Homo sapiens: one gene and its partners. The protein of the gene in region 2 purifies or fractionates together with the protein of the main gene of each other region. This does not show direct contact. Each region holds a gene or a part of one and is shown on either strand. Other genes may lie near its edges.

Region 1 (3,521 bases), on a different chromosome or scaffold from region 2:
GGCTGGGAGGCCGAGGAGGCAGCAGCCCTGAGGGGCCTGAGAGAGGGGACTTACACAGGTGGTGGACACATCTGAAGTCTTGCAGAGAAGGGGCCTGGAGTTCCCAGGTAAGTGCTGTTGCCATGGGCTCGGGGAGCCACCAGGGCCTTGGAGCACTTGGGCGTCCCAGGATCAGATCTGAGCCGACCTCATGAGGCTGATCATTTGCCGGACTGAGCTCCTCACCAGGCCCCTGTGTGTGTCTATGTGGATCCTGCAAGAACATGGCCAGAGCCAGCCAGAGGAGCCTGGGAGGTGGAACGGGGGTTGTTCTGAGATGGTGGCAGTGAGGAGCAGGATGTCTCTGTGAGAGAAGGGAGCAGTTCGGTGGCACCTTGCCCAGGCTCAGTCCTGGCACAGTTATCCTGAGCAAACCCTGGTGCTGGAGTTGTGTGTGCTGCCCTCCGCGCTCACATCCTGGCAGGTAAAGTTCTTCCTCACTGGGCACGGAGGGAGAGGCCTGTGTTTCCAGGCTCCTTGAAGGAGCTCCCATTAGACTACACAAACATGAGCCTGCCTGTCTTTTCTCATCATATCTTTGGCCATGTGTGTGTGTGTGTGTGAGATAGGGTCTTGCTCTGTTGCTCAGACTGGAGTGCAAGCCTCAGCCTCCCAAGTAGCTGGGACTACAGTTGCACACTCCATGCCTGGCTAATTTTTAAAATTATTTTGTAGAGACTGAGGGTTTGCTGTGTTGCCTTGGCTGAGCTACTCTACCCGGCCACACCTTTGGCCTCTTAAAGGTCAGCCCTTCACATCATGTCATCAGTGACCTGACAGACGAGAAAGCCGCTTTTCTCCTCTCTGGCCCCTCCTCGGCTCTTGCTGCTAGGAGAGAAGCAGACATCTGGCCTGAATGTGACTCCAGTGCCCCATCGGAAGTGAAACTTGCCCTCTCTTGCAGGTGTTTGAGAAGCTGCAGCTGCTCAACCCTGAAATAGAAGCAGAACAAATATTAATGTCGCCCAACTCATATATAAAGCTGCAGACAAACAGGTACGTGACTCAGCTCTTGTTTCCAGCAAAGTTGTGCGGCTGTGCTTGCATCCGACACCTCATGTGTCAACACTGTCAGGAGCCATGGGTACTTTCAGGGAGGTTTTCTCCTGCTGTGCTTGGAATGGGTGAGGCCTCTGCCTGCTCCTTCTCTTCTCTGTGGTGCTCCTCTGCTTCTTGAAATCACTTCTCACTGTGGGTCTCTTTTTCCTCCTTGTAGCCTAGAAACATTTTTATGCGAGGTACTAAAATTCAGTCTTTAAAAGGGAAAAAAACACCAGCTTAGAAATGTTGTGTTTCAAGACTTGCCACTCAGAGTGTAGCCCATGAGCCAGAAGCATCAGCATCACCGGGAAGAGAAGATGCAGCTCTCAAGCCCCACCCCAGACCTGCCCAGGGAGAAGCTGCACCCTAGGGAGATCCCCAGGCGAGGGGGCCGCACAGTAACGCTTGGGAAAAGCTGTTTAAAGCTCTTCTGCAAACCTAATTCCTACCTTTGATTCCAAGGGGATGCCTTTCGTAACAGTGGCTTGCATTTGAATGGCAGTTGCCAAGCGGGAGACTCCACGGGCCACAGGACACTTACATGTTGCATGAAACACATACATGTTTTCATTCAGCCAAAAGTAACAAAGTGCCAGGCTCCATGCTGGGCTCCAGGAACACAGATATGGGTGACATAGGGTGCCCCGGAGGAGGGTAGCAGGAGAAGGCTATTAAAAAGCAAGGTGTAGTATTCAAACCAGAGCCCAAAGAAGGGTGCTGTCCATGGGGATTTAGGGGAGGCATGTCCCAGATGGAGATGCTCGGGCTGCAGTTCTTGAAGGATGAATAAGAGTTCCCCAGGTTAAGAGGAAGGGGTTGGTGGGGGAAGAATGTTTAGGCAGAGGCAATAACATTTGCTCCTAGTCATCTATAGGGCTGTGGAAGAGACAGAGATGATGGAAACTAGCCGTGGGAGCTGGAGGCCTTTGCTTCCTGGGTTTCTTTATTATATTAATAAATATGTAAAAGGGTAACAGATACGGCATAATTTGCTTCCTACCCAGTACATAGTATCAGTAGTTTGCTAACAGTTTTCTTAGCGGGTAGTCTGTTTTTATCCTGTTGACAGTCCTTAGAAATAGGACAAGACAGGATCATTACACACCTTTTACCAAGTAAGAAGTCAACGCCGAGAGAAGAGGGGACATAATGTGCACACAGCTGGTGGCAGGACATGTTGGGACCGGCTTTGGATTCTGTCGGACTCAAAGCCCCATCCTCCACTATGCCAGGATGCCTTGCTTCAGTAAATTGAGAACAATTTGCTGCAGAAATGATATTTTACAGTAGATGTCCCATGGAGCTGATGAAAGAAACTGCCCTCATAGTCTCTCCCTCCCTGCTGGCTGACCCACGGCAGGCACTGCTCTGGGAAGAGTGAGACGCCACACTTTGCTCGGAACCATTGGATTTCTGAATTACTTTTCCGTGGGTGACTGATGAAGCCTCAGACAACTGACGGCACGTGGTCCTGAGGTCCGTGGGGCCAAGATTGGGCCTTTTTTCCTCCCAGGAGCATGAGGAGCCACAGACTCTTAGATCTCCTGGCATTGTATCCAGGCCCACTCCCACTGCTGCCATCTACAAAAACAGCTCTGTTTTGTTTTCCAAAGGGATGGTGCAGCCTCTCTGAGCTACCGCGTCCTGGATGGACCCGAAAAGGTTCCAGTTGTGCATGTTGATGAGAAAGGCTTTCTAGCATCAGGGTCTATGATCGGGACATCCACCATCGAAGTGATTGCACAAGAGCCCTTTGGGGCCAACCAAACCATCATTGTTGCTGTAAAGGTAGGGTTGCATTCTCCTCCTTTTTGGAGTAATGAAAGCAATAGCACTGAGGTAATATGCCTCTCAGGTGTAAAAGTGAATACGTTCACCTTCCAGCTAAGAAACTGTAGACAGGCATTTAGAGTAACTCAGGGGCAAAGGTCCTAGGTAGATAAAAAGCTACAGCATCTTCTGGTCATCAGAGCCGAAGATCCTTGGGAAATCATTGATTCCAAGAACTTCATTTCATAGATGAGGCCCAGCAAGGTCCATGATTGGCGTAAGGTTACAGAGCTGGGACTGGCACCACAGCTTCCTGACTGGAGTGCGGGTGCTCCACCCACTGTGCCTGGCCACTGATGTTATCACCACCCATGGTGGAGCTCCTGTTCTGGGCCAGCCCAGTGTCTGGAACATGGTCTGTTCTTAAGAGCATTGAATGTTGTGCTCAGTACCTGCCATACAAGTCGTGACATCCAGTACGTGACATCCACTGTGGTTTTGAGAATGAGGTGGCCCATTTTCCAGACAAGGAGACTGAGGCTCAGAGTGAGAGTGACTTGCTTAAGCTTGCATGGGGGTTGAGTGATGGGGTCTGTCTGGTTTGGGCCGTGTCCTTCTGCCATATCATGGCACTGCCCTCTGCCGTTCTGTGTTCCTTACGGATGGGACCT
Region 2 (3,521 bases):
TCAGGATGATCTCTTTTTGATGCTTTTTTCTTACAGTTACAGATTTATGGTAATGGAAAGACTAGGAATAGATTTACAGAAGATCTCAGGCCAGAATGGTACCTTTAAAAAGTCAACTGTCCTGCAATTAGGTATCCGAATGGTAAGAATTACTTATTTCGCATGCTCCATTTCCAAATTGTTTACTTCTTGCAATATAGAAATCTTTTCCCTTTGTGGAATTATTAGAGAATGAAGGATTATTGCCCTAGAGACATCAGTTATTAGGAGTAGAGGCTATTTTGGTGAAATTGATAACAATGGGCTCTGTAAGTGACAGAATGTGCTGTGTATGGCACTGCAAACTCAATTAGGCTTTGGTTCTCCAGTCTGATCTTCTTTTTCCTTAGAGCTTTGTTTTACATACCAGAACAAGCTTTCATTGCTGTAAGAATAACCTTTCTTTTGTCAGTTATAACAATGCAAATTATGGCAAAATATATTGTCAGACATTTTAAACATGTGATGGTAGGGGGGTGCTATGAAGTTTTTATTATGAGTTTGGGATGGTGGCAATAATTAGTTGTGACAATGAATAAAATATACTTTGCCAAAGCAGAAGCAACGAACTCTTAATAGCACTCAGGCACACATTTGTTTATACTACATATTTGTCTTATATGTTTGTATTTGGTTTGTTTAAGTCTCATTTTTTCACTTTTGAGTAGCATGAAGCTGCTTATGCCAGATTGGAATGCAGCAAATAGAATGCATTAATTTTCTCATTTATCCATCCTCGAAGCCAGCAAATGTTTATTGAGTACTAAGTGTATGTAACATGCAAGGCTGAAGGGCTTTAGAGATGAAGCTAAGGAGTTTTCTATTACCATACAGAGGAAGAATACCTTTCCCTTTGCTCATGGACATGGCATTTTGTTCTGAGATTCTCAAGGCTTGATTTATAATTATTGCTTAGGTGAGGAATTGCTGAGTGGGCTTCAAGATTATTTCACCATAGATCTCTGATTTTATGCTATGTTTTTCCTCTTTGTGCAGTGCGGTTTGGCTACTGGGCTATCAGGAATTAGGCATAAGCATTTTTGAATCTTGATTTTCTTCCTTTGGAACTTCAACTAAAATACTTGATTTTTGAGGATCATTTTACTTTTTTCTAGGATGAGCAACCAGAAGATGTGATATTTTAGAATAATTAACCAGTAATTGTGAAATACATCGCTTTGTCAATGTTAATATGAAAAAACCCATGTTATTCTATATTCAAAATGTTGAAATTGATCATGAGTTCTAAATAGCAGTAAACCTTATTTTATCTATTTATTTTCACAGTTGGATGTACTGGAATATATACATGAAAATGAATATGTTCATGGTGATATAAAAGCAGCAAATCTACTTTTGGGTTACAAAAATCCAGACCAGGTAAATACATACTTTTGCTTTTAATAAAGGTCTTTAATGTATGAAACTGAAACATTCAGAAAACAAACTTCTAACCCAGAAGAGTTTACAAATGAGGGCGTAACATGATGAATGTTGTAATTTATCTTACCTGCTTATCTAATTTAATCTTTGTACCAAACTAATGAGTAATTAGGATGAGAAACTGAGAGTCAGAGGGGTTAAATAATATGTTAATGGGCACACAGTTAAGAAGTGGCTGAGCAGGAATTTGAATTTCTGAGCAAATATAGATAAGCAAAGAACCATCAAAATCCAGTGGGAGTAGAGATGGATTTATGTAGAGGTTAAAACACTGTCATATTAGTTCATCATTTCCTACTGTATAACCAATTAAGTTTTAAGCAGAGAGGCCGGGCGCGGTGGCTCATGCCTGTAATCCCAGCACTTTGAGAGGCCGAGGTGAGTGGATCACCTGAGGACAGGAGTTTGAGACCAGCCTGGCCAACATGGTGAAACCCTGTCTCTACTAAAAATACAAAAATTAGCTGGGTGTGGTGGTGGGTGCCTGTAATCCCAGCTACTCAGGAGGCTGAGGCAGGAGAATTGCTTGAACCCAGGAGGCGGATGTTGCAGTGAGCTGAGATGGTGCCATTGCACTCCATCCAGCCTGGGCAACAAGAGAGAAACTCCATCTCAAAAAAAAAAAAAAAAAAAAAGTTTTAAGCAAGCTTTTCCATTAAAATTTTGTGTAATGATGAAAATATTCTGTTTGACTGTCCAATATGGTAGCCATTAGCAGTATGTGGCTAAGTACTTAAAACGTGGTCAGTACAGTACCAACTGCTGATGAGTATTTGGAGTAACAGGAACTCTCATTTGTTGCTCATGGAAATTTGTTGCTAATGGAAATGCAAAATGATACAGCCACTTTGGAAGACAGTTGGGCAGTTACTTAGAAAGCTAGACACTCTTAACATACCAAGCAGCAGTTGTGCTCATTAGTATTTACCCAAATGAGTTGAAAACTTACATCCACACAAAAACCTGCACGTGAATGCTTGTAGTCGGTTTATTCATACTCGTCAAAACATTGAAGTAACCAAGATGTCTTTGAGTAGGTGAATGGATAAACTGATACATCCAGATAATGGAATATTATTCATTGCTAAATAGAAATGAACTTTTCAGCCATGAAAAAACATGGAAGAAACCTAAATGTATTTTACTATGTAAAAGAAGCCAATCTGAAAAGGCTAGTTACTATACAATTTCAACTATATGACATTCTGGAAAAGGCAAAACTATAGAGACAGTAAAAAGATCAATTTTTTACTATCTCCATAGGTTAGAAGGGAGAGGAAGGATGAATGAGTGAAGCACAGTGGATTTTTAGGTCAGTGAAACTATTCTGCATGATACCATAATGGTGAATACATGTCATCATTTGGTTGTTAAGATCCATAGAATGGACAAGACCAAGAGTGAACATAATGTAAACTGTGGCTTTTGGATGATAAGGATTGTCATTCTTGGTTCATTCACTATAAAAAATGTGCTACTCTAGTGAGGGATGTTGATAGCGGAGAGACTTTGTGTGGGCTTGAGGTATATGGGAACTCACTGTATTTTCCACTCAGTTTTACCTACATTGCTCTAAATTTACCTAAATCAAACCTAAAACTTCTCTAAAAAATATAGTCTGTTTAAAAAATGTAGATTATATTTTTAATATTAAAATATTAATATTGACAAACTGAATTTTTAATTTAACTTAATTTAAACTTAAATAACAATATACCTAGTTGTTACTGTATTATCACGTTTAAAGAGTTAAATGATTGAGTCTATAAAAAATTAGAAAAAATGTAATTGAATATTTGATCTCTGCATTGGTTAAATTTCTTAATAAAAATTTTTTCAAAATGAAAGGTGAATGAGAAACTGGGAAATAGATAGATAACAAATATTTGAGAATATCTAGCCGGTACTAAAAAAAAAATTAAGAAAAACACTAAATACCTTGTTAAAGCGATGATCGAAAAGAATGAATAAACAGAACAGAGAAGGAATATGACTGTCCTAGAAACAGGAAAAAAGGCTACCTTTGTGAAAAATGAGAA
Region 3 (3,500 bases), on a different chromosome or scaffold from region 2:
ACACCAGCACCTTAATCAAAGAGTATAGACTCTTCAGTGGTAATCCAGAGAGCACTTAGAAAAGAAAGAACTGTTTTTTTAATGACTTGGAATAACAGAGGTTTGTGATGTTGGGAGGTAAAGTTTCTTGGCATTTTTCTAGTCTCCTGATTTTTTAACCTATGTGTTTAAGGGAATTACAAGTTTTATAATTTCCTTGTACATCTTAATAGTCTTCAAAATCCAACAGTAAATGAACTTCAAGAACCCCTGCAACTCTAGCTTTTTTTTTTTTTTTTTTTAATTTTTTTTAAGATGGAGTCTCGCTCCATCGCCCGGGCTGGAGTGCAGTGGTGCAATCTCGGCTCACTGCAACCTCTGGCTCCCAGGTTCAAGCAATTCTCCTGCCTCAGCCTCCTGAGTAGCTGGGATTATAGGCGTGTGCCACCACGCCTGGCTTATTTTTGTATTTTTAGTAGAGACGGGGTTTCACCTTGTTGGTCAGGCTGGTCTCGAACTACTGACCTTGTGATCCGCCCGCCTCAGCCTCCCAAAGTGCTGGGATTACAGGCATGAGCCACCACACCTGGCCAGCAGTTTGTAAATTATAAAGCCTCAGAAGCATTTCTGACCCATTCATTTCTGTCCGAATATTTTTTAATGGTTTTGTCACAAAAGTTAACAATGAAAATTAAAATTACCTCCAGTCTTTAAGTATATCCACCTGACGTGGTCATATGCTTAATGACTATAATTTATTTGCACTTATTCACATAATATTCACTTATTATACCTTGTTTACTTTGAGAAGTTAGTAAATCATAACAGCCGTTTACTTTGAGAAGTTAATAAATTGTAACACCAAAACAGTCTGGTTTGCCTATGAGTCTTTTGGTGGTGACTTTTGAGAATAGTTTTTACTTGTCTCTGCCTGAGGATGAAACACCTCAAAGCTGGCTTCAGAAACCTGATACATAAATAACATATCAGTTGGTATAGAGATAGTTGGTTAAAGCAGTAAAGTTATAACATAAGGGATATGGTATCTTTTAGTTCTGCTGCAAAACATTTTCTTGTAACTATTCTAGATCATATTTCTGAGTGAATAAAAATGCATCAGTTGAGGCCGGGCGCGGTGGCTCATGCCTGTAATCCCAGCACTTTGGGAGGCTGAGGAGGGTGGATCACCTGAGGTCACGAGTTTGGGACCAGCCTGGCCAACATGGTGAAACCCCGTATCTACTAAAAATACAAAAATTACCCAGGAGTGGTGATGCGCCTGTAATCCCAGCTATTCTGGAGGCTGAGGTGGGAGAATTGCTTGAACTTGGGAGATGGAGGCTGCAGTGATCCAACATCGCGCCACTTCACTCCAGCCTAGGCAACTGAGCAAGACCCCATCTTAAAAAAAAAAAGAAAGCATCAGTTGTTTTCGGATTGAAGAACAAGCTCTGTAAAATTAGAATTTGGTGTGTATATATCTTCAGTGTACTCTGAAAAGCCTCAGTTATTGGCCACACTTTTAATATCACCGTCACTTTAGTAATTAAATGCATAAAACTAGATATTAATTGGATGATATATTAAAGTCTTGGGAATTTTTATTGTTTATTCTCTGTATCTGGTGGGAGGAAAAAGGAGTGTTTTGAACTTGTGGGAAAGCATTCCCCATTAATCATCCAGGAGTTTGTTTTCTACAATTTTAGGAATGTATATGATGTATAGTATGTAACATTAACTTTCCCACTTTTTAAAAGAATTGTGACTTTTTTATTTTATTATTTTTACCTGTATCAGATATAAAACCATTATTTAAATTTTCTTAGGCAGAGGGAGATTTCTAATTTTTCTATTTATTTTGTTTTTTTGGCTCTTGCTTATAGTACATTTTTAATGTATATTTTGTAAGTTTGTTTTATGAACTTATCCAGATAAATTTTCCTGGATGTAGATTGATGGCAAGTTATTCTAAAGCAGATTTGTGTTTACTTTATCTGCTGCATGTCTTGGGGAAAGCATTTGCTGGAACTAAATCTGGGTTTAATGTTTGTTAGAACTAAATCTGGGTTTAATGTCCTAAAGCTACAGTTCTATCCCAAAGCCTAAGGACAGCCATACCGTATGGCTTGGATACTAATTTTCAGGGTAACAGCAATCTTCTCTCCATCCAGTTGAAACAACGTCCTTTCTCATCATCACTGTGTTGGTTCAGTGGTTTATTCCCTCTCTCTCTTTTTTAAGCTATCTTTTCACTGAGCATGTCACCCATTTGGGAGTCTCAGAGCTTTATGTGAGCATCTCAGTTCCAGGTTCCCACTTTGCAGGGATCCAAGATCTCTCTTTTCTTATGGGTGTTAAAAATACAAATTCATTGGTTATAGAGACTGGCACACCCTTCTACACCCCCAGGAATGTAAGGATGGCATCAGCCACTGACCTGTAGTTTACCTTATATTCTCGTAAGCTCAGCTAAGGATGTAGAAGGGTTTCCAGATTCTGTAGAATATAACATAGGAAGTTTATTTCTCAAATGGAGATACGATTATATGTTTTGGTAATGTTAACAAAATACTGATCCATGTAGCCAATCAAGTTGCTGCTTTCTCTTTTAGTTTAGACTTACTGAAGTGTAAAGGGAGCATACTTCAGTGCAAGAAAAATATTTTAATAACAACCCTTGCTTTATTCTCAACTGTGAGAGTATTCAGAGTACTTTCAAAGAAATAAACATAGCAAACATAAAACCAGAGATATAAAAGTCTATCAGTTTTCCTAGATTAAACTAAAAATGACTAATCTTTTAAATAATAAAATTTATTCTAACCTTTGCTCAACTTACATATTCTAAAATATATTTGAAATATCTCTGGAAGATTTAGTCGCTGGGGCCAAAAGTAGATTGCCAATGGTTTGAGTATCCTGTTGGCCTAATCACTATACTACTATGCATCCTTATAATTTAGCTTCTACAGAAACGTGTTCTGGAAACATGGAAACAGGACTCCTTACACATTCCTGGTTCTTTGTCATCTACCAAAACAAGCAGAGTGATCCTTAAAGCAAGGACCATTGGCTTCAGTTTTCAGAGGCTTGAGTCTGAGTGATCCTTAGGGATAAATAAAGGTTTTCTCCACCTTGTTTGTAAACTGTTTCCAACAAAGCTGCCTAAAAGGTATGTTTCTGCCATCCCATTCCTATTTTCTTGTTTCCCTCCCCAGTAAACTCTTAGGCATTCCTTGGAAAATACTGATGCTGGTCAAATTCTTTTATATACTGCAGAATGAGCCCAGACACCTGTTAGTTGAGCCTGTTGGCAAGTCCCTTACGTAGTTCTTCCTTGCCTCTTTATGTGGGATAGATTTCCCCATTTTTTACAGTAGTTCATGTCTTTCATCATGAGCCCTAAAGTCTCAGTCATTGGGTATTAACTTAGTTCTACATCTTTCTGAGTAGTTATACTTTGTTCAAAATGTAGCTCCCTTTTCCCCACATTTAGTAACTAATCCTCCTCCATGACAAAG
Region 4 (3,521 bases), on a different chromosome or scaffold from region 2:
AGCTTCCACCCATTTTTGCTAAAGGGTGTGATCTGCTAAGACTCGGACCCCAGTACGGGGTGTGCTGGTGGTGAGCCGGTGGCCAGGGCATCTGAGCCATCTCTCTGACCTCCAGGTGGGCTATGCCATCCGCTTTGAAGACTGCACTTCAGAGAACACCTTGATCAAATACATGACTGACGGGATCCTGCTCCGAGAGTCCCTCCGGGAAGCCGACCTGGATCACTACAGTGCCATCATCATGGACGAGGCCCACGAGCGCTCCCTCAACACTGACGTGCTCTTTGGGCTGCTCCGGGAGGTGAGGGCTGTGTGGTTTGGTCTCTCTGCGCATGGGGTGTTGACCAGTGCACCACCAGTAGCTAGTGGGTTGCTCCAGGTGGGCTGAGGGGGTCTCTGGTAGGCCAGAGGTTCCTGAGGCCTCTGGTTGCAGTTCAGACTCGGGTTGTAGTTCATGCTGTTCTTGCTCTGCTGAGGGTGGCTTGGGGTTTTCTGGGCAGTGGCTCCATTGCTTCAGTCTTCATGATTGGTAAGAATTGAATAGGCCCATTTGTCAGCTTTGGCTTGTGTTTCCTCGGGGGTGGTGCTGATGGGACTGGGGGACAGGAGCCAAGGGTCCCCACCATGGGGGCCTCCGAGCCGCCTCTTCTCTCAGGTAGTGGCTCGGCGCTCAGACCTGAAGCTCATCGTCACATCAGCCACGATGGATGCGGAGAAGTTTGCTGCCTTTTTTGGGAATGTCCCCATCTTCCACATCCCTGGCCGTACCTTCCCTGTTGACATCCTCTTCAGCAAGGTATTGAGGCCACCATGTTACGAACTGACCCTTCCATGCCACGCACTTCTCTGATGCGAAGCCGGCTGGAGGGTGGAGGGTGGGTAGGGGACTGGGTTGGAGAAGATTTCCTGGGGACCATGGGGCAAATGGGGCAGCCTGCAGCTCTGGGACTCGGGGACAAAGGACTCTGCTCTGGGTGAGGTTTTGTTTCATTATTTCTTTGAGGCTGAAGTACAGGGCCCAGGGAGGCACTGTGCCCTCTTGTAGAGGCCTCGCAGTCAGGCCCATGTGGAGGTGTGGTGGCCCTCAAAGTCCATGGCTCCATTCCAGAGCAGTGCCTGGGCCACTGGGCTCCCAGGAGATGCCCGGCCTGCGCTTCTAGTACCTCCCTCTGACTGTGTCCCCACTGCTGTTGCAGACCCCACAGGAGGATTACGTGGAGGCTGCAGTGAAGCAGTCCTTGCAGGTGCACCTGTCGGGGGCCCCTGGAGACATCCTTATCTTCATGCCTGGCCAAGAGGACATTGAGGTGCGTGCCTTGGTCACGACTGTGATGAGCGGGTGTGTCTTGCATATGAGAGGTTAGGGTTCCAGTGTCTCACAGCTCCTCCCTGGGCTCTCAGGTGACCTCAGACCAGATTGTGGAGCATCTGGAGGAACTGGAGAACGCGCCTGCCCTGGCTGTGCTGCCCATCTACTCTCAGCTGCCTTCTGACCTCCAGGCCAAAATCTTCCAGAAGGTGTGTCAGCAGGAATGTCCAGGAGTGGCTCTTGGAGTTCTCTAAAGGAAGCGAGAGGGGATGTGACTGTCCTGGCAGGGGGTGGGCTAGGAGGTAGGCTTTTCCCCCTCGCGGAGCCTTTCCTGTCTCGAGGGACTCATTTTTCCCTTCCTGTATGTCCTGCTCTAGGCTCCAGATGGCGTTCGGAAGTGCATCGTTGCCACCAATATTGCCGAGACGTCTCTCACTGTTGACGGCATCATGTTTGTTATCGATTCTGGTTATTGCAAATTAAAGGTAAGAGAAGACATGGGAGGCAAGGCCTGGGTGTTCACCAGAAGCTAACTTAGCTGCGGGGTGGGAAGCCAGGGCCTCGCTCCTGGCCCTGGGATGTGGGGAGCGCGTGGAAGTGGTGGTGGTGGTGGGAGGCTCACATTGACTCACTGTGCTTGGTTTGTTTAACCCTTGTAATACTCGATGAGGTAGATAATTTAACAGTAGAGCTCAGAGAGCTGGTGTTTGTGGGGAAGACTTCTTCAGGTGTTCATGAGAACATTTCTAGAGCCTCCTGGCTCTTCCTCTGCCATGTGTAGCAACCAGGGCTTGCCTTTGTCTCAGGCCTACTTCCACTTTCCCCTCACTCTGTCCTTCGTCAGCTCTTTGCCGTCCCCTCCTAGGTCTTCAACCCCAGGATTGGCATGGATGCTCTGCAGATCTATCCCATTAGCCAGGCCAATGCCAACCAGCGGTCAGGGCGAGCCGGCAGGACGGGCCCAGGTCAGTGTTTCAGGTAGGAGCCCTGTGCTAGCCTGCTTTCTGGGGCAGCGCTGGGGTTGCTGAGCGTGGAGCCCGGGCGGGGGCGGGCAGGATGCTGGCTCTAGAGCTGGTCCCCAAGGCTGGAAGCTGCTGGCAGGGCTGCCACTTGTTAGTCCTTTCATCCTATGCTACTGAGTGGAAGGAAGGAGTGGCTTTCCAGGGATTTCAGAGGTCTGAGGCCAACCTACGTGGATGTAGGTACACATGCAGGTAATTACAGCCTGCCTCCCTTCAGAGGGTAGGTCTGGACAGATGATGCCATTGGTTCTTTTTATTTCTATTGTTCTCTTTCCCCATTTTCTTTCTTTCTTTTTTCCAATTAGAGACAGGGTCTTGCTCTGTCACCCCAGGCTGGAGTGTGGTGGTGCAATCACAGCTCACTGCAGCCTTGATCTCCTGCACTCAAGTGAACCTCCCACCTCAGACTCCCAAGGGGCTGAGATTGCAGGCAGGCACCACCACACCTGGCTAATTTGTTCATATTTTGTAGAGATGGGGTCTTGCTATGTTGCCCAGGCTGGTATTGTGAACTCCTGGCTTCAAGCGATTCTTCTGTCTTGGCCTCCCAAACTGTTGGCATTATAGGTGTGAGCCACTCTGCCTGGCTCTCTTCCCCTTTTTTGTTCCAATTAAAAAAATTAATGTATTCACTATAGAGCGTTAGTGAATATAGAAAAATATCAAGAAAATAAAACCCAGCCATGATTCTAGTCCCAGGCCCATTGGTTCTAGAAATGAAACAGATGGCTGGGTGTGGTGGCTCATGCCTGTAATCCTGGCACTTTGGGAGGCCGAGGCGGGCCGATCACAAGGTCAGGAGTTTGAGACCACCATGGCCAATATGGTGAAACCCCATCTCTACTAAAAATACAAAAATCAGCTGGGCGTGGTGGCGGATGCCTGTAGTCCCAGCTACTCGGGAGGCTGAGGCAGGAGAATCGCTTAAATCCGGGAGGCAGAGGTTGGGCAACAGAGTGAGACTCTGTCTAAAAAAAAAAGAAATGAAACATGTAAGAGGCTCCAGAAGAAGGGCTAAATTGGCAGATTGGAGTTTTGAATAGGTGGAAGTCAGTGATTCACTGAAGTAGTGGGTGGGGAGAAGAAATGAGAATTTCCTCCCTCCCTGTGGGATTTCATCTGTACTGGCTGCTGTGGGGTTTCCTTGTGGTGAGAAGATGGGGTCTTCTCCCCGGCAGGCTCTACACCCA
Region 5 (4,298 bases), on a different chromosome or scaffold from region 2:
AGCTAATTGTCAGGCTTCAGCTGAAGCACACCGTAAGGCCTGCATGAACTTCAGCTGTCCATAATGCGTAAAAGACCAAGTGCGCAAGGCAAACAGATCTTGCCATGGTTGCTGATGAAAGAAACTTAATCTCTTGGGGCCTGAGTTGCCTTATCTGTAAAGTAAGGATAATCCTTGCCTTACAGGATTATTGTGAGCTCCAAATAAGATAAACCTCTTGGCACACAATAGGTGCTTAAAAAAAAAATGCCAGCTATCATCACTGAAGTGAGCTTTTTCTGAGAGCAAACCTGTTTAACTCATAAATTTCTTTCATTGATAAGATGTAACCAGTGGAGAAACTTGGGGCAGGCACACGATGCCTCTCTGCACTATCGCTGCAACTTCCTGTTAATGTATACTTACTTTTTCTTCCATTTAGAGCTCTACAAGAAATACCTGTGTACCATTTTGCGTGCCTCCTTCTGAGGCTCAGTGGGCTATGCTCAGAGAATAGAGATAAATGTCTGCCCTATGTAGCAGAAAGGCAGTTATACATTTTAGAATGATGTTTTTCCGAAGAAATGACAAAAGCCAGACGAAACAGACTGACACGGTCACTGTGGTTTGGAATGTTAGTTTTTCTCTTTGGCTTTACTACTTTTGGCTCTACACTGTAGAGGAACCAGTGTCCTCATGAAACAGCCAGTATAAAAGCAAGTAGCTTACTTCACAGGAATAGCTAATAACATTTAATTGTTGAGCATTTAACCAAAACCCACTCAGGTCAATTTAAGTGTAGTGCAGTGGAAGAAATTATTGCACACTGCAAAGTTGTGGTGCATTTTACTTAAATCTACAAAGGCCAACAGAAGTGCAGTGTAATATAATAAATTACTGCAAAATATAATCATAAGGGGAGAAGGTGGCTGTTTTCGAAGCCCTTGGCCCCAAGGTAACTGAGGTCATCCCCCTGAACCCCCCAGCACACATCCTCATTATTTCAGCATTTGTACTACAGGGGGCTACAAGACTTCCGCCCCACAGCAATGGGGTGAAAACGTGAAGTGATCGGAGCCCCCAGATAGAGGGGCCAGCAATAGAAGAAAAGCTGGGGCAGGCTGGAGGAGAGGGGCTGTGGAAAAGGTTGCTCTCAGCATCATACACGCCTTATCCTTCTAGGTCGGGTATCCACAAATTCCCAAAATTTGCGAGAACATAACCCTGGAGAAGGTGGGGGTGACCCACGGAGGAACTCCCTGGAAAAGCGGAGGCGGCCCCAATGGGAGACTCCCGGGGGTCAACTCCGAGGGGAGGGGGCGTCTGCGAGAAAGGGGAGGGGCGGCGGTGGGCAGCCTAGGGAGGAGAGGAGGGGCGAGACGCCGTCGCCAGCCCCCTCCTCTTGTCTGCGCTCCCTTCGTTTCCGTCTCGGCCGGGCACCCGAGCGCATCCCGCCGAGGCCGGGCCGTTTCAGGGGGAGGCGCCAACTCATCGCGGCGCCGGGCCCCTGACCGTGCAGTAACCGCTACCCAGGAGGCGGAGCGGACAAGGCTCCGGCCTGCGAGGAGGTAAGAGGGTGGAGGAGTGGTGTGGGAGGCCGAGGGGGATCGCGGCCGTGACGTGGGATGCTGTCAGGTACCACTGGGGCAGGCCACCCCTCCCCGCCCCTGCGGCCCGACCTCCCCGCCAGAGACAGCTGAGGGGCCCAGGGGACTAGAGCCGCGACCGTGCCACAGGCCTAGGCGTCGTCGCGCATGCGTAAAACTGCTGGCGGGAGTTAAGAGCTAGGTTCCGGGGCTACACCCAGCCCAGGCCGCAGGCAGAGGCGGCCCTGCGCATGCGCAATTCCGCTGGCGTGGGCCCGGTGCGCTGCTCGCGACTACATCCTGCCCAGGCCGCCGGCCCAGGCTGCGCTGCGCATGCGCGAGTCCTCTGGTAGGGGTCGCGTTTGGCGTCGTTCCAGGGTGATCATCTGCTCGGAGGCCGCTCTCATCCTAAGCTCCCACGTCTGGTGTGGCTGGGGGGGCGTCACAGGTCCCGAGGGAGCGTCCTGCCTGAAGTTTCTCCCTCCTAACCCACTCGCTGCACTGCATATGTTGCCGATGTTTTCATTTCTGTGGCCTCGACCCCTAGGCTCCCGTCCCATAAATCTAGTACCCCAGGTCCCGGGCACCGGCCCGGCTCACTAACTCAGTGGCAGTATATGCTTTCGACATTTGGTCCTGATGTCCAGGAATAGCGCGAAAAGTTTGACTTTGTTAGGCGAAGCCGTTTTGGAACTGCGGAGGGATGGGAAGAAATCGCCGAGCGTCTTAAGCCGCAACATAGTGCTCTGCTCAGCCCTGGAAATAGAGGTTTTCAGACATTGAAAACTTTCCAAGTGCTCCGTCTTGGCGGAGAAAGAACTGAGTTGGAAGGCTAATTTAGAATGAACTTTTTGCTTTTGTTCTTTGCAAAAATTACATAAAATGTTGCAACAGTTCGAGACCAGGACTATAACAAAACGCATTTCATGGAGCTACTTTGTACCGCGCTTGGCGACTTACCTTGTCAGAGCTGAATAAAAGTGGTTGAGTTCACAAACAGTGCTCTGGATCGTTGCTCTTTCCCCCAGACACTGTTTAACGTTTATTGAGCCTCCTGGCTTTGCACCTTCCTAGTATTGCGTTCCTGCTGGGTTTTACACCTTACTAGACAGTGGGTCTTAGTTAAGTCAGTTTCGTGACTCCTGGGGCTACTGTGAAGAGTTTCTAACAATGTCATTACTCTGTGCTTTGTAATCTTATATGATGTGCTGATACAGATATTTGGGGGCTGGAATAGAAGAGCCACTTAGGCTCAGAGAATGAGTATTCTAGGTGAAACGTAATCTCTTTATTTCCTGCTAGACAGTACATGCGTGTTATTAAGCAGCAGGTAAAAGCAACAAGAATGATACGTTCTTGCATACCCCACTTCCACCACTCAGGCCTTATTGCTCTTGCTGGGCTCGCCAAGCGGACCCTCATCCCAGGGCGTCTGCGTTTGGTATTTCCAGTATGCTCAATGCTCACTTTCCCACTCTTCGCAAATCTGCATGGCACAGAACTTTATTTAAGTCTTGAAACAATTGCCATCATTTCAGAGAGGTGACTACCTCACCTAAAATGTCTGGCTCTCCAAACTCTTGTACTGCTGGTTCGGCTTTGTAGCACTTAATCACCATCTGATATTATATATTTGTAAGGGTATGATCAATCTATCTCCACCATAATTGAAGCTCAGAAGGTATTTGTTAATTGTAGAAATAAAATTGGAAACTAACTTACTCCAGAGATATTTTTTTACTGAACTCAACCTAGATTCATTCATTTATTCAACAAAAATTGATTTTCTATCACGTCCTGTCCTTGATGCTTGGGATGCATCAATGAACAAAAGAGACAAAGATCCCTTCCCTCTGGAGCTTACATTCTAGCAAAGAATGATAAAAAACATATTTGTATATTAGGTTAGAAAAGTACAAATGCTATGAAAAAATGAAAAAGGAGAACAGAGAAAGGGAATTGGGAGTGCAGGTGTGGGTTGCAATTTTAAACATCATGGGTACGGTGAGTCTGAAGGATAAACCAAAGGTGATGTTTAACATGGGGAACTGGGTTTTAGAAATAAATGTTCTTCTGGGAGAAAACGTTCTTTATCGTGCTCTACAATGTCTTTTATGGGAGCCCACGGCATGACCCTTGTGATAAACGTCACCATTTTTTATAGTATATAGGTGAAAAAACATTTTTTTCCTAAATAAGAGTTCAAATTATTCAGGAGTTTACAGTTTAACTTAGCACATCAAATGAAGACACTGGACTTTTACAAGGAAGAGCTAGCCAGACATCTATGTAAATTGTGCTGAGAAAAACTGTACGTTGTCTCCACAGTTTTTGCAATTGCTTCTAAATGTCCCTCTGACTGTGGATGACTAGTGAAGATCTTTTCTAAGAATGGTCATTGCTTTTCTGTATTTGAAACTGTGTAGGAGAGGAGCTTAAATCACCTGGTGTGATGTTATGCTATAAATGACCTCTCTTACAGGTATCTGAATGAACCAGATAGACCTAACTAAATTTCAATCCATAATTAAAGAAGGCTTAGAGAAAGAGGGTGATGGAGAGGAATAATTTTAGAAAGTAAAGTGTGTTTCCCCTCATGTCCTTTACTTACATAGATTACAAATACTCTGTTCAAACACCAAAATATTATTAATCTAGGACCATAAATGTAAGGAGTCCATGGAATTTGCTTATGCCCTATGAAATTGTCATATTCAAGTTTGGTTTTATCAG

What was found.
Region 1: the proteins of VRK2 (region 2) and NUP210 purify together in Homo sapiens (affinity purification with mass spectrometry; one large-scale study listed by BioGRID and IntAct). This does not show direct contact.
Region 3: the proteins of VRK2 (region 2) and EIF4G3 purify together in Homo sapiens (affinity purification with mass spectrometry; one large-scale study listed by BioGRID and IntAct). This does not show direct contact.
Region 4: the proteins of VRK2 (region 2) and DHX38 purify together in Homo sapiens (affinity purification with mass spectrometry; one large-scale study listed by BioGRID and IntAct). This does not show direct contact.
Region 5: the proteins of VRK2 (region 2) and RCBTB2 purify together in Homo sapiens (affinity purification with mass spectrometry; one large-scale study listed by BioGRID and IntAct). This does not show direct contact.

The regions. Positions count from the first base shown.
Region 1 is NC_000003.12:13,329,807-13,333,327, reverse strand, and holds part of NUP210 (nuclear pore membrane glycoprotein 210 precursor), read left to right. Parts: intron 1-943; coding exon 944-1,035; intron 1,036-2,693; coding exon 2,694-2,868; intron 2,869-3,521. UniProt on the Homo sapiens protein: Nucleoporin essential for nuclear pore assembly and fusion, nuclear pore spacing, as well as structural integrity.
Region 2 is NC_000002.12:58,088,305-58,091,825, forward strand, and holds part of VRK2 (serine/threonine-protein kinase VRK2), read left to right. Parts: intron 1-36; coding exon 37-142; intron 143-1,326; coding exon 1,327-1,419; intron 1,420-3,521. UniProt on the Homo sapiens protein: Serine/threonine kinase that regulates several signal transduction pathways.
Region 3 is NC_000001.11:20,935,898-20,939,397, reverse strand, and holds part of EIF4G3 (eukaryotic translation initiation factor 4 gamma 3), read left to right. Parts: intron 1-3,500. UniProt on the Homo sapiens protein: Component of the protein complex eIF4F, which is involved in the recognition of the mRNA cap, ATP-dependent unwinding of 5'-terminal secondary structure and recruitment of mRNA to the ribosome. Functional homolog of EIF4G1.
Region 4 is NC_000016.10:72,103,831-72,107,351, forward strand, and holds part of DHX38 (pre-mRNA-splicing factor ATP-dependent RNA helicase PRP16), read left to right. Parts: intron 1-115; coding exon 116-301; intron 302-655; coding exon 656-796; intron 797-1,196; coding exon 1,197-1,307; intron 1,308-1,401; coding exon 1,402-1,518; intron 1,519-1,686; coding exon 1,687-1,794; intron 1,795-2,174; coding exon 2,175-2,287; intron 2,288-3,509; coding exon 3,510-3,521. UniProt on the Homo sapiens protein: Probable ATP-binding RNA helicase. Involved in pre-mRNA splicing as component of the spliceosome.
Region 5 is NC_000013.11:48,530,277-48,534,574, reverse strand, and holds the start of RCBTB2 (RCC1 and BTB domain-containing protein 2), read left to right. Parts: upstream 1-1,494; 5' UTR 1,495-1,547; intron 1,548-2,525; exon of another isoform or gene 2,526-4,298.